Regions from separate parts of the Homo sapiens genome. Here region 2 is linked to region 1. Evidence: fine-mapped expression QTL. Tissue or cell type: whole blood. Region 1 holds a variant in brackets; the other region holds the start of a gene. All regions are shown on one strand. Distances are from middle to middle. Region 1 overlaps CCDC62 (coiled-coil domain containing 62). Region 2 holds the start of HIP1R (huntingtin interacting protein 1 related).

Evidence for each region. PIP is the estimated chance that this variant, and not a neighbour inherited with it, causes the effect.
Region 2: HIP1R starts here. The variant in region 1 is the best candidate, but not a certain one, in a credible set for the expression of HIP1R in whole blood (INTERVAL, PIP 0.58).

What each region holds. Positions count from the first base shown.
Region 1 is chr12:122,805,612-122,808,519 of GRCh38, reverse strand. It overlaps CCDC62 (coiled-coil domain containing 62), which reads right to left. Exons shown (of 13, transcript NM_201435.5): 10 at 2,225-2,369. Among named protein-coding and RNA genes, the nearest start is that of HIP1R, 28 kb to the left of the region's middle. The variant G/A (reference allele first, on the strand shown) is at 1,325.
Region 2 is chr12:122,833,845-122,836,752 of GRCh38, reverse strand. It overlaps HIP1R (huntingtin interacting protein 1 related), which reads right to left and starts at 1,296. Exons shown (of 32, transcript NM_003959.3): 1 at 1,110-1,296. The coding sequence starts at 1,202. It overlaps LOC124903040 (a long non-coding RNA gene), which reads left to right and starts at 1,520. Exons shown (of 2, transcript XR_007063501.1): 1 at 1,520-1,579; 2 at 1,915-2,198. RefSeq lists silencers at 785-984, 1,155-1,394 and an enhancer at 1,645-1,694.

The sequences.
Region 1 (2,908 bases):
TATACACCTACCATATGAGCTAGCTAGCATTCCATTCCTAGATAAACGAAAAAAAAATGTGTCTATACAAAGACTTATGATACATGAATATGCAAGCAGCTTTATTTGTATTATCTAGCACACCAGAAACAACCCAAATGTCCACTGACAAATGAATGGCTAAATCACTGTGGTAATAGGTTGGTGCAAAAGTAATTGCGGTTTTTGCCATTACTTTTTTTTTGAGATTGAATCTCGCTCTGTCACCCAGGCTGGAGTCCAGTAGCACGATCTTGGTTCACTGCAACCCCTGCCTCCCGGGTTTAAGCAATTCTTCTGCCTCAGCATCCTGAGTAGCTGGGATTACAGGCACACACCAGCACACCAGGCTCATTTTTGTATTTTTAGTAGACAGGGGATTTCACCATGCTGGCCAGGCTGGTCTCGAACGCCTGACCTCAAGTGATCCGCCTGCCTCGGCCTCCCAAAGTGTTGGGATTACTTTTAATGGCCTACCATTACTTTTAATGACAAAGACCATACTTACTTTTGCATCAACCTAATATATCCACACAATAGGATACTTGTCAGCAACAAAAAGGAATTATTTATATACACAGTCACATAAGTTAATCTCAAAATAATTACACTGAGTGAAAGAAACAAGAGGGACACAAAAGTTTGAATGCATTTATATAAAATTCTAGAAAAGGCAAACTAATCTGGGTTACAGAAGACAGATTAGTGAGTGATTGTCTGGGAATAGGGAGGGACGCACAGGGCAGAGGAAGAATTCCAAAGGGGTTTGGGTGTAATGAATGTGTCACTATTAGTCTGTCACATACAGACTAATGTGTGGTAAATGGGATTTTATTATACAAGAAAATGTCTGGCCAGGTACAGTGCCTTGTGCCTGTAATCCCATTAGTGGGATGAAGATTTCAATTTGCCACCCTGGTATCTTGGTAAATCATAGATGTCAGATGTTTACCTTTTTTTTTTTTTTTTTTTGAGACAGAGTCTCACTCTGTTGCCAGGCTGGAGTGCAATGGTGCAATCTCGGCTCACTGCAAACTCTGCCTCCTGGTTTCAAGCGATTCTCCCGCCTCAGCCTCCCAAGTAGCTGAGATTACAGGCACCCGCCACTACACCTGGCTAATTTTTTTATTTTAGTAGAGATGGGGTTTCACCATGTTGGTCAGGCTGGTCTCGAACTCCTGACCTCAGGTTATCTGCCCACCCCGGCCTTCCAAAGTGCTGGGATTACAGGCGTGAGCCACTGCGCCTGGCGATGTTTTCCTCTTTTATGTTTTTAAAATTTTATTGAAACAAAAAATAGAGGCAG[G/A]GTCTTGCTATGTTGCCCATGCTGATCCTGAATTCCTGGGCTTAAGCAATTCTTCCACTTTGGCCCCCAAGAGTGTTGGAATTACAGGCACGAGGCACTGTACCTTGCCACACATTTTCTCATATAATGAAATCCCATTTACCACACATTAGTCTGTATGCATGTCTCTGCAGATAGAGAAATCTGTAAGCAAGCCCACCAACGTGTCACCTGGGTCTCTCTAGACACTGCCAGGGGTTGTGTATTTGGAGGAAGGGGCAGCTGAGACCAAGCAGTTAGGTGATATCTATATTTCTGTATTGTTCTTGTGGTTTGTTTTTCTTTTTCTTTTTTCTTTCTTTTTTTTTTTACAACCAACATATATCAAGTTGCCAAAAAAAAAAAAAATACAATTTTTCTCGAAAGAAAAAAATAGTCCCAGCACGGTGATTCACACTTATAATCCCAGCACACTTTGGGAGGCCAAGGCAAGAAGATCACTTGAGCCCAAGTGTTCAAGACCAGACTGGGCAACAAATTGAGACCCTGTCTCTACAAAAAAATGAGAAAATTAGCTGGGCGTGGTGGCATGTGCCTGTAGTTGCAGCTACTTGGAAGGCTGAGGCAGGAGGATCACTTGAGCCCAGTAGGTTGAGGCTGCAGTGAGCCACGATTGCACCACTGCACTACAGCCTGGGTGACTGAGTATCCTGTCTCAAAGAAACAGAACAAAACACAAAATAATAAAATAAATAAAAGGATTGCCTTAAAAGCATCTTAAAATCCTAGAATTAAAAAAAAAAAAAAAAAAACGGAGGAATAGCCAAAATAAGCAAGCTAACAGTGGTTGCTAGAGAAGCATTAAAAGCTGGTGAGAGGCCTGGCTTGAGTAAGCTGGGGATGTCTAAGCAAAATACGAACCTTTTCATTGAATGCTGGTGCATCTTTGTAGATTAACAAACTCGTAGGTGAGTTCTTTTTATTGGAAGAGGACTCCGTCTCATCTTCTCTCAAGGCAGATTTTGAAGAACCCAAAGAGTGGGAATCTTGGATGGCAATTAGCTCACTAAGAATAAGAAAACCCAACAAAAACAAATATCTTAAAACAATATCATACATAGATCACTCTTATACTCAAAAGTATCTTAAAAGGACAAATAAGTGTTTTTGTTATTGAAGCAGGTCAAGTTTGAGTAGAACATTATAGATTGGAATAGAATATTATAAGTTAATGCATACCTTTTGCAAATAAGAATTAAAATAAGGCTGGGCATGGTAGCTCATGCCTATAATCCCAGCACTTTGGGAGGCTGATCTGGGTGGATCACGAGGTCAGGAGATCAGGACTGTCCTGGCCAACATGGTGAAACCCCATCTCTACTAAAAACACAAAAATTAGCTGGATGTGGCCGGGAGCGGTGGCTCACACCTGTAATCCCAGCACTTTGGGAGGCAGAGGCAGGCGGATCAGGAGGTCAGGAAATCGAGACCATCCTAACACGGTGAAACCCCGTCTCTACTAAAAATACAAAAAATTAGCTAGGTGTGGTGGCGGGTGCCTGTAGTCCCAGCTACTCGGAAGGCTGAGGCAGGAGAATGGCGTGA
Region 2 (2,908 bases), 28 kb before region 1:
CATAGCTCTCTGCAAGGACAAGTGGGACGGAACTTGCAAATAGCCGCCACAAACGCAAATGTCACCAACCTGCTTTAGACAGGAGTGGGAGGGGTCCTCTGGCTTCCTTTATCTCTAGAGTAAAATTTTTCAGCCATTTCAGTCTTGGTTGACTTATTTTGGCAAATAAACAAGTATGCCCCCCTCCACCGCCCATCCCCCAAGCCTGAGAGCACTTCAAGAGTTTGTAAAATAAAAAGCAACAGGAAACCAGAAACGCAGCAACGTCTGCATCGTGGGTCCCCGGCACAAACACAAGTACAAAACGCACACCCGCGCCCTTATTTCATTTCTAACGCCTTCCCAGGATAGGCATCATCTGGAAGAGTTACAAGCGTGGGAGGCGCAGGAAGGGAGCCCCAGGAAGTTTCTGTCTGTCGGGCGCCGGTATTTAATGAGGGGGTGTGCACCTATTTATACGTGGGCAGCGCTCGGGCAAACAAGTCTGGCGACATACGAGAAGCTTTTCACCCAGCAAATAATAGGAGACTGTGCAGCCCTGGGAAACCGCTCACGAGAGAAGGAAGCTGGGAGTTTAAGGAATTTCCTTTAAGGAAATTGCCCGTGGGGGCATCGGTTTCAGGGGGTAGGAGACGGGGGCAGGAGCCGGCAAGGAGCGGCACGGAAGGTCGGGGACCCCAGTCGGGCCGCGCCGGCCCCGGGAGCACCTGGATCCCCAGCCCCCTCGACCCCCGGCGCGCTGGGCTCGCGCACACCCAACCCCGGCCCCATCTCCGTCCCCCGCCGCCTCAGCTCCGGCGCTCCCGGCCCGCGCACACCCTGACCCCGGCCCCCTCAGCCCCGGCGCCTCTGGGCCCGAGCGCCCGGCGGGAGCGGGGAGCGCGGCTTCCGGTTCACCTGCGCGCCGGTCGGCTCGGGCCGCGGAGGCCGGCGGGGGGCGGCAGCGGAGCTCTCGGAGAGCCCGGGCGGACACAGGCCCTGCCCCCGCGCCGTCCCCCGCCCCTGGCCGGCGCCTCCCGGGCCCCAGCCGTTCGCGCGTGAGGGGTCAGGGACGCCGCTTGCCCGCCCGCCCGCCGCCGCCCGCCGCCCGCCGCCCGCCGCCCGCTCGCCTGGGTCTTGTCGAACTGCTCGCGCTCGGCCTCCAGGCTGTGGCCCGGCCTGCGGCTCAGCACCCGCGCCGGCACGTTCTTGATGCTGTTCATCCTGCCGCCGCCGCCCGCTTTTGTCCGGCTCCGTCCGCGCGACTCACAGCCTCACGGTCCGGCAGCCCCAGCCTAGGCACCGCGAGGCCACCGCGCCGCGCCCGGGCCCGCCCGCCGGGGAGGAGCCCGCCTCGCCCCGCCCCCAACTCCAGGGCACGCCCCTCCCCCGCACACCTCCAAACCCGCCCCCCGCGCCCGCAAACGCCTCGCCCGCCCCCAACTCCAGGGCGCGCCCCTCCACCCGCACACCTCCAACCCCACCCCCCGCGATCTCGGGACACGCGCCTCTCCCCGCACATCCCCAACCCCCCATCCCGCGGCGACCCCGGCACACGCCCCGCCCCCCGCACACCTCCAACCCCCACCTCACTCACAAGGTTGGGGCACAGGCCAAACGCCCCCCCAGCTCCTCCCCACCTCTAATCCCCTCCCTAAACCCGGAGGGGAGGGTAGGGGAAGGGGGAGGGGGAACCCCTCCCTCCTCCTTCCACCCAGGGTAGGGACCCCAGCCAATTCCCTCTCCCCACCCCTCCTCCGAACTCACTAAGTCTTGTCTGCACCAGGGCAAGATCTGGTTAATTGGAGAAAATCTGGCCTCCATGAGTCTGGTCGGTGGCAGCACAGATAGACGCTTTTTTTCCTTTTTGGTCTTAATGTATGTGTCAAAAGGCACACAATGACACTCTCCCCTCTTTGTGCAATTCTGACATAGCTGCAGCTGTTATCCATGCGGGGATGCAGGATGCATTTCCAGAGACGCCGCCGGCTCCGCAACCGGACACCTCGCCAGCTCCAGGGACAATGGGGGCTGAGGCCGGGCGCTGTTAGGCTGGCACAGAAGGCAGGCGGATCTGAACAGCAAAGTACACCGAGGAGATGCCGCCAGGGGTGGCGTGAGGCTTTTTAAAAACATTATTATTGGCTTTCCCTTAAAATTACTGGTCACAAGACTGAAGTAAAAAAATAAATAAAAGCCCAGAGTCCTCTCTAAGCGTAGCTCTCAGATGGGTATTGTGTTTCTGCTGTTTCCCTTTCCTATCGGAATGCAGATGTGGAATCATGCATAAAGGTCCCTTGCTTTTGAAGGGAGAGGCACCGCCTGCCTGTAAGGAGGAAAATGACGCCCACGTAATCCTGACCCTTGTCTCCCTAGTGAGACTGTAACCTGTCTGAGGTCAGAGACCCTTTCCTTTCCTTTCCTTTCCTTTCCTTTCCCTTTCCCTTTCCTTTCCTTCCTCCTTCTTTTCTTTCTTTTCTCTCTTTCTCTCTCTTCTTTCTTTCTCTTTCTTTCTTTCTTTTCTTTTCTTCTCTTTCTTTCTTTTCTTTTTTTTTAACCGAGCTTCACTCTTGTTGCCTAGGCTGGAGTGCAATGGCACAATCTCACCTCACCGCAACCTCCGCCTCCTGGGTTCAAGCAATTCTCCTGCCTCAGCCTCCCAAATAGCTGGAATTACAGGCATGTGCCACCACGCCTGGCTAATTTTGTATTTTTAGTAGAGACAGAGTTTCTCCGTGTTGGTCAGGCTGGTCTCGAACTCCCGACCTCAGGTGATCCGCCCGCCTCGGCCTCCCAAAGTGTTGGGATTACAGGCGTGAGCCACCACACCCCGCCAGGGACCCTTTTCTTTAACTGATTCCTCACCCTCCAGCCCAAGAGCTAGAGCTGACCCCAAAAGATAACATTTGCCAAGACTCTCCTGTCACTG